Linked DNA regions of Homo sapiens: region 1 is linked to region 2. Evidence: fine-mapped QTL for protein levels in blood plasma. Region 2 holds a variant in brackets. A gene starts in the other region. All regions are shown on their reverse strands.

Region 1 (4,395 bases), not on the chromosome of region 2:
CCGGCAGTCAGAGTTTAAGGTTATCTCTCTTGTTCCCTGAACATTGCTGTTATCCTGTTCTTTTTTCCAGGTGCCCAGATTTCATATCGTTCAAACACACATACTCTACAAACAATTTGTGCAGTTAACGCAATCATCACAGGGTCCTGAGGTGACATATATCCTCCTCAGCTTATGAAGATGATGGGATTAAGAGATTAAAGACAGGCATAGGAAATCACAAGGATATTGATTGGGGAAGTGATAAGGGTCCATGAAATCTTCACAATTTATGTTCAGAGATTGCAGTAAAGACAGGCGTAAGAAATTATAAAAGTATTAATTTGGGGAACTAATAAATGTCCATGAAATCTTCACAATTTATGTTCTTCTGCCATGGCTTCAGCCGGTTGGTCCCTCCATTCGGGGTTCCTGACTTCCTGCAACACTGGAGTGGCTCACAGAACTCAGGGAAATACTTACATTTAACGGTTTATTATAAGAGACAGTACAGAAGATACAGATGAAGGCCAGACATAGTGGCTCATGCCCGTAATCCCAGCACTTTGGGAGGCCAAGGCAGGAGGATCGCTTGAGGCCAAGGTATGGGGGAAGGGATGCAGAGCTTCCATGCCTTCCCTGGGCACGCCACCCTCTAAGAACCTCCACATGTTCAGCTATCCAGAAGCTCTCCAAACTCTGCCCTTTTGGGGTTTTACAAAGGCTTCATTACATAGGCATGATTAACAACCATGTAGAAATGTGATTAGACAAAAAGCACATAATCTAAACCCAGCAAGTCCTGCCTGTTCAGGCTTTTCTTGGCCTGTGTAGCATTCCTTCCTCTAGAGTATGGGACAGAACCCTTTCTGGAATGAGGATCTTATGACCCACAATCAGATTAGAGTCCTGCCTTGGGCAGGTGAAAGAAAAACAGAAGGTCAGAGAGAGATTCCGTTTCCTGAGGCCTGTTCCTGAAGCCTAAAGTGCCCCAACATTATAATATAAAAAAAAGACTGGGCTGGGCACAGTGGCTCATGTCTGTAATCCCAGCACTTTGGGAGGCCAAGGCGGGTGGATCACAAGGTCAGGAGTTCAAGACCAGCATCTTGCCAAGATGGTGAAACTCACTCCAGCCTGGGCAACAAAGCGAGACTCTGTCTCAAAAAAAAAACAAACAAACAAACAACAAAAAAAAACTGTAACAAGGGTTATGGGAGTTATAAGCCAGGAACCATGGATAAAAGCCAATATATATATCATAACACCACAACCCGAGACTGAGCAATTTATAAATAACAGAAATGTATTCTCTTACAATTATGGAGGCTGGGAAGTCCAAGATCAAGGCTCCAGTGATTTCAGTTTCTATTTCCAAGATGATGCCACTTTGCTGCATCTTTTGGAGAGAAGGAGCATTGTGTACTCACCTGGCAGAAGAGCAGAAGGTACCAACCCATTCCCACAAGCCCTTTTTATAGTAGCATTCATCCATTCATGAGGGTGGAGCCATCATAACCTAAACATTGTCCATTAGGCCCTATCTCCCAGCACTATTAGGGATTAATTTTCAACATGAGCTTTGGAGAAGAAAAAAATATTCAAACCACAGCAGTAATTTGAAAACATAAAAAGAAATGGGTGAAATTAATTTTAATAATATATTTTATTTAACCCAAAAAGTCCAAAATACTATCATGTAATCAATAAACAGTATAAACATTATTAACAAGATATTTTATATTTTTTTCTGTACCCAGTCTTTGAAATCCAGTGTGAATTTTATACCCATAGTACATCTGAGTTTGGACTACTCATATTTCAAGTGCTCAAGAGCCACATGTGGGCTAGCGGCTACCACATAGGACAACACAGTTCTAGAGGAAGCATGGCATGACTTTGGAGGTCATCTAGTCTGACTTGTTATTTACAGCAAAGTTAAGTACGTTGCCTGAGGTTATACAACTTATTAGTAGATGAGGAACAATTAGAATCCAATTATCTTCATGCTACCCCATGCTTTTATTCACAAAGCTGATTGGCAGCAAAGCTGCACTAGCGCTCATGCCTCTTCACACCTGCTCTTGGGCTCTTTTCTACAAGGCATTGCCCCCCTTCCTGTCTTTCTCCTAAATAAGCTATTGTAAAAAGCTTCACTGGAAACAATTTGGCTGTGAACCAAGACTAAAGTGGGGTTTAATACTTCCATATCTTTCCACAAAGATACATTTTTTATGACTTGTCACCCTTGTCCCCAGAAACTCATGGTTTCCATAAGCTACTTAAAAACTGATTATGCAATGGGTCTCAACATAAGTGTCCATCAGAATCACCTATAGAGCTTTTACAAAATTCAAATGACTGGTCTCCTACCTGGGAGTTCTGGTTTACAAATCAGGGAAAGGGGAGAGTCATTTAGATTGATTTTTTTTAATGTTCCCCAAATGATTCTGATGCACACCCCACCTCACAGTGACCCTGCCAGCTGCCAGATCTCCATTGACATCCCCTGACCCCCAGGCAGGATGAACACAAGTTAGGAGCTTAATAAGTCGAGGAGGAGCCTGGTCTTAAGGAAAGAAACATGAGAAATAGATACCCTGAACACCTCCCAGGGCGGGGCCACCTGGCTTACTTTTCCTCTGCACTTTCTCTGTGCCCAAGGACACCTTTAGCCTCATTTCCTGATCGAACAGCCTCACTTGTGTTGCTGTCAGTGCCAGTAGGGCAGGCAGGAATGCAGCAGAGAGGACTCGCCATCGTGGCCTTGGCTGTCTGTGCGGCCCTACATGCCTCAGAAGGTGAGTGGGGGCACTGGACACTTAGGCCTTCACTGGAAAGGGGGGTATCTCCCAAATCTGTGCTGGAAGGATTGAGGTGGGGCAAGAATATCTATCTCTTCAAGCAGGAATTTCCAATTGATTTCTGATTACCTACAAGAGAATGACATAGCTTTAAATTCTAGATCTCCCAGAAGTTTCAGGAAGGAACCTCATTCTAACAGGCATACTACAAATTTTTGCCACCTGGAGGATGAGGTCCTTCCATGTAGGTACAACTTCGAGCTATGTTTCCTTTTCTGAAGACAGTATCTTAGAAAATCCCCAGCTAGAGGCTGGAGTAAAGCCCCTACTATTCATCTGTCTTCCTCCACACCCCAACCTGCTAAACGGTCTGAACACAACTGTGCACATTCCTGGAGGGAAATACAGACTTGGCCAGCTGCGTTCAAATTAGGTAAGTTGTAAATTTCCTGAGCAAAGTCAGCTCTATGGATACAGAAAACTGAAACTTCAGTCTGACCTTTAAAAAGGGAGGGCAGAGCTGAGCACAGTGGTGCATGCCTGTATTCCCACCTACTTGGGAGGCTACGGCTGGAGGATAGCTTCAGGCCAGGAATTCAAGATTGCAGTGAGCTATGATCACACTGTGAATTGCCACTGCACTCTGAATTGCCACTGCACTCCAGCTTGGGCAACATAGTAAAACCCCATCTGTTAAAAACAAAAAGAGGGGAGGGGAGGGGAAAGAGAAGGAAAGGAAGAAAGGAAAGGAAAGAAAGAAAAAGAAGAAAAGCAGGATGAGGGAGATTGAACCATACAAATTATGTCAAAGAGAATTTAAATCGTGAGTTGCTAGCATGTATTTGGAGATTGTAACTGCATTTGAACTAGAGGGAATCTCTTCTAAAGTAGCACTCACTACTATATTCAGGAAACCCTAAGTGTCAGTACTTAATACTTGACCAATGACTCTTTTCCATTGTCATCTTTTCTTTAAGCTTTATCCTGAACAGATTCTCTAAGTCTAGAGCAGAGGTGGAATATAAGTCTTTGGTCTGCTTTTTAAAAATCTGAGCCAACATTTTAAAACTGAAAGCTTTCTCATGTACATACTCATACATACACACATACAAATTGGATTTTAAAGCTTCTCTTGAGAAATCAGATGTGGCAACAATGATTCCACCATACCATGGCAAGAACTGGCTAAAGCAGATGAGCCTCTGAAGTTTGCTGTATTAACTGCCTGGTCCCTGCAGGCATTTGCTTAGGGACTCCCAATATAGTCCGTCAATGTACTGGGCTTATACAAATAAGCAACAGAAAAAACCTGGACAATCTCTTCTCAATTTCTACTAATCTATCTATCTTATCAATATAAAGACAAAAATTTGTCACTTTATGTTTCTGTAACATTTCTCAGAAAAATTCACCATTGAGATTTGGGGACTCATTTTCACTATTTCTGAAAGGCCTACCTGCTAAGGCTTCACTCCTAGTTCTGGTAATTCCACCAACTCAAATTTTTTACATAAAACTTTGAAATGTGTACCTCCATCCAGCTTCCTGACCTACTCCCACCTGTCCCCACAGCGGCAGCTCTCCTACAGGAAAGGAGGGAGGGAACAGCAGG
Region 2 (4,395 bases):
GTTTGCTTTCATAAACATGGACTCAAAACATCCTTGGATGCAAAATCTCAGGTCAAAATCTCCAGTGACATCCAGATGGATTGGTCTAGGAAATAGTAGGAACTCTTTATCTAGAGTTTAAGAAGTCAGGGCAACAACAAATCCAGATTTTTCAGGAAAAAATTTGTTTTGAGGTGGGGTCCTGCTCTGTTGCCCAGGCTGGAGTGCAGTGGCTTGATCATAGCTCGCTGCAGCCTCAAACTCCTGGGCTCATGCAATCCTCTTGCCTTGGCCTCCTGAGTAGTTGGGACTACAGCATGAGCCACTAGATCTGGCTATTTTAAAAATTTATTTTTTGTAGAGACAGGTTTTTGCTATATTTCCCAGGCTGGTCTCAAGCAATCTCCCTGTCTCAGCCTCCCAAAGTGCTGGGATTACAGGTGTGAGCCACTGTGTCTGGCTGAAATACAGATTTTGAAGCTATCACTCTGTAAGTATTAATCCGTTTTCTTTTGCATCTGCCATAAAATAATAATGCATAGTAGGAATCTAATAAATGCTTGTTGAATTCTCTCTAGTCAGCCCTACAAGCATTACGAACTGAAGAATTATAACCGTAGAGTCATTCATTTTAATTTAGCAAGTACTAAATACTTTACAGAAAGGAACTCTCATGCTGGGAGAATGATAATCAGAGTGAAACTGAGGCTCACCAAGACTTGAACATATGGAGTATAACCACAAGTCCTATCAAAAAATATACTATATTTGCTGGGTATAGTTGCTCATGCCTATAATCCCAGCACTTTGGGAGGCTGAGGTAGGAGGATCACTTGAGCCCAGGAGTTCAAGACCAGCCTGGGCAACATAGTGAGACCTCATCTCTACAAAAAATTTAAAAATTAGCTGGGCATGGTCATGAGCACCTGTGGTCCTAGTTATTGGGGTGGCTGAGGTAGGAGGCACTTGAGCCTAGGAGGTCAAGGCTGCAGTGAGCCAAAAGCATGCCATTGCACTCCAGCTTGGGCAACAGAGTGAGACCCTGTCTCAAAAAAAAGAAAAAATAATACTATGTCTGGTCCATAACCTGAAATATTTTTATCTTCACGTTCCTTATCATTCACTGAACTTTTATTTTTCTTTTAAAATTTTTTCTTTCTTTTTAAATTTGCTTCTACAGATTTCTTCATTCTCCATTTAGCAAGGTCATGGAAGATTTGGAGGAAACATTATTTGAAGAATTTGAAAACTATTCCTATGACCTAGACTATTACTCTCTGGAGTCTGATTTGGAGGAGAAAGTCCAGCTGGGAGTTGTTCACTGGGTCTCCCTGGTGTTATATTGTTTGGCTTTTGTTCTGGGAATTCCAGGAAATGCCATCGTCATTTGGTTCACGGGGTTCAAGTGGAAGAAGACAGTCACCACTCTGTGGTTCCTCAATCTAGCCATTGCGGATTTCATTTTTCTTCTCTTTCTGCCCCTGTACATCTCCTATGTGGCCATGAATTTCCACTGGCCCTTTGGCATCTGGCTGTGCAAAGCCAATTCCTTCACTGCCCAGTTGAACATGTTTGCCAGTGTTTTTTTCCTGACAGTGATCAGCCTGGACCACTATATCCACTTGATCCATCCTGTCTTATCTCATCGGCATCGAACCCTCAAGAACTCTCTGATTGTCATTATATTCATCTGGCTTTTGGCTTCTCTAATTGGCGGTCCTGCCCTGTACTTCCGGGACACTGTGGAGTTCAATAATCATACTCTTTGCTATAACAATTTTCAGAAGCATGATCCTGACCTCACTTTGATCAGGCACCATGTTCTGACTTGGGTGAAATTTATCATTGGCTATCTCTTCCCTTTGCTAACAATGAGTATTTGCTACTTGTGTCTCATCTTCAAGGTGAAGAAGCGAAGCATCCTGATCTCCAGTAGGCATTTCTGGACAATTCTGGTTGTGGTTGTGGCCTTTGTGGTTTGCTGGACTCCTTATCACCTGTTTAGCATTTGGGAGCTCACCATTCACCACAATAGCTATTCCCACCATGTGATGCAGGCTGGAATCCCCCTCTCCACTGGTTTGGCATTCCTCAATAGTTGCTTGAACCCCATCCTTTATGTCCTA[A/G]TTAGTAAGAAGTTCCAAGCTCGCTTCCGGTCCTCAGTTGCTGAGATACTCAAGTACACACTGTGGGAAGTCAGCTGTTCTGGCACAGTGAGTGAACAGCTCAGGAACTCAGAAACCAAGAATCTGTGTCTCCTGGAAACAGCTCAATAAGTTATTACTTTTCCACAAATCAGTATATGGCTTTTTATGTGGGTCCTCTGACTGATGCTTTCAGATTAAAATTGTTTCCAAGATAGAGAGCCGACTCCACTTTCATAGTTATTGTTTCTGGTCACTATATAGGCATCACATTTTTGTGTGGATATGAAACTTAGGAAGGATCCTCTTGACTCCTTGTGATGTGGCAATAAATTTTTTTTAAAAAACTGAAAATACTTAGGAAGGATCCGCATAATTTTTTTCTGCAACTTAAATGAAATGCATCATTCTTGTTAATTATACCATGGTGAATTAATCACTTTTGAAGCAATATCAGTTATTTTTTGAATAATAACTTTTCTAAAGCCTTAAGTCTTAATATTAAATATATGATTAGCCAGGCACGGTGGCTGACACCTGTAATCCCAGCACTTTGGGAGGCCAAGGTGGGGGGATTACCCGAGGTCAGGAATTCGAGACCAGCCTGACCAACATGGAGAAACCCCGTCTCTACTAAAAATACAAAATTAGCCGGTCATGGTGGTGCATGTCTGCAAACCCAGCTACTCGGGAGGCTGAAGCAGGAGAATCACTTGAACCTGGGAGGCAGAGGTTGTGGTGAGCCAACATCACACCATTGCACTCCAGCCTGGGCAACAAGAGTAAAACTCTGTCTCAAAAATAAATAAATAAAATAGATAAATAAATATATGATTAACTAATTTTAAAAATGTTAAAATGTATTCTTAAATTCATTTTAATTTTGTACAATAACCTGCTAGACACATTTTTAAAATGCAACATGTGTACTTAATTTCTTTATGTAATCTATGTATATACATTTATGAATTAAAGTAATTGTTGGTTATCTTAAAACATCTGTTCTAGTTAATGATTTGGGAGATTTTTTCTTCTTTCTCCCACTCTCTCTGTTTTTTATAGTAGGAACAGCCTTTATTGGTTGCAATGGGAAGTGGAAGAGGAGGGGATATGACAGCTCATGTTCCTGGGACAGTGTCCACAAATACCGTCGCCACACTCCAAAAACCCAGTTAACTAATGATGCTTAATAAACTCCTCCTAAACCTAGTTCTTAAAACAGTTTATACTTTTGATATAATTCTCACAATTCTGAGGGTCAGGAATTCAAAGAAGTCAGAAAAGAGGTTCATCTCTCTCTGCTTTGCAATATCTGGAGCATCAGCTGGACTGAGATGATGCAAATCGAAGCTGGAAGCTGCCTAAGACATCCCCTTCCCTCCCTCCCTCTCCCCTCCCAACACAGCTATTCCACCATGGCATTTCAGGGTCGCCAGACTTCTAATGTGGCAACTCAGGGCTCCAAGAGGCCAAGGTGGAAATTTCTAGTCCTGTTAAAGGCTATGACTGGCACAGGTACAGTATCACTTCTATTGTATTGTATTGGTCAAAGCAGGCATAGACCAGCTCATGTTCAAGGGGAAGAGACACAGATCCCCATCTCTCAACGGAAAGAATGTCAAAAAAAATTGCACCAATCTTTAATCCTCTACGGTATCATTATAAACAGAAATGCTTTTAGAAAATTCTGGGTATCAGGTACCTATCAATGGTAGATTGGATAAACAAAGTGTGGTACATATACATCATGGACTACTGCACAGCCATAAAAAAGAATGAAATCGTGTCCTTTGCAGCAACATGGATGGAACTGGAGGCCATTATCCTAAGTAAATTAGTGCAGGACAGAAAACCAAATACTGCATGTTCTCACTTGTAAGTGGGAGCTGAGGCTGGGCTCGGTGGCTAATGCCTGTAATCCCCGCACTTTGGGAGGCCAAGATAGGCGGGTCACCTGAAGTCAGGAGTTCAAGACCAGCCTGGTCAACAAGGTGAAACCCCGTCTCTACTAAAAATACAAAAATTAGCCAGGTGTGGTGGCACGCACCTGTAGTCCCAGCTACTCGGGAGGCTGAGGCAAGAGAATCACTTGAACCTGGGAGGCGGAGGTTGCAGTGAACCGAGATTGCGCCACTGCACTCTAGCCTGGGCAACAGAGTAAGACTGTCTCAAAAAAAAAAAAAAAAAAAAAAAAAAAAAAAAAAAGCCTGGGCGGCTGGGTTCAGTGGCTCACACTTGTAATTCCAGCACTTTGGGAGGCCGAGGAGGGGTG

Alleles and levels. Positions count from the first base shown, and alleles are read on the strand shown. Strength reflects both the effect of a copy and how common the allele is.
In carriers of allele G in region 2, the plasma level of the protein whose gene starts at base 2,642 in region 1 tends to be lower than with A alone (moderate association).

What was found. A credible set is the group of variants that fine-mapping cannot tell apart. PIP is the posterior inclusion probability: the model's chance that the variant is causal. The UK Biobank Pharma Proteomics Project read protein levels with antibody pairs (Olink). The fine-mapping took linkage between variants from a reference panel, not from the people measured, so its PIPs are less certain.
Region 1: CCL28 starts here. The variant in region 2 is the best candidate, but not a certain one, in a credible set for the plasma level of the CCL28 protein (UK Biobank, PIP 0.62).

What each region holds. Positions count from the first base shown.
Region 1 is chr5:43,410,638-43,415,032 of GRCh38, reverse strand. CCL28 (C-C motif chemokine ligand 28) reads left to right here and starts at 2,642. Exons shown (of 3, transcript NM_148672.3): 1 at 2,642-2,780. The coding sequence starts at 2,717.
Region 2 is chr2:206,174,040-206,178,434 of GRCh38, reverse strand. It overlaps CMKLR2 (chemerin chemokine-like receptor 2), which reads left to right. Exons shown (of 2, transcript NM_001389445.1): 2 at 1,160-3,119. The coding sequence starts at 1,188. The coding sequence ends at 2,255. Among named protein-coding and RNA genes, the nearest start is that of SNORA41, 14 kb to the right of the region's middle. The variant A/G (reference allele first, on the strand shown) is at 2,106.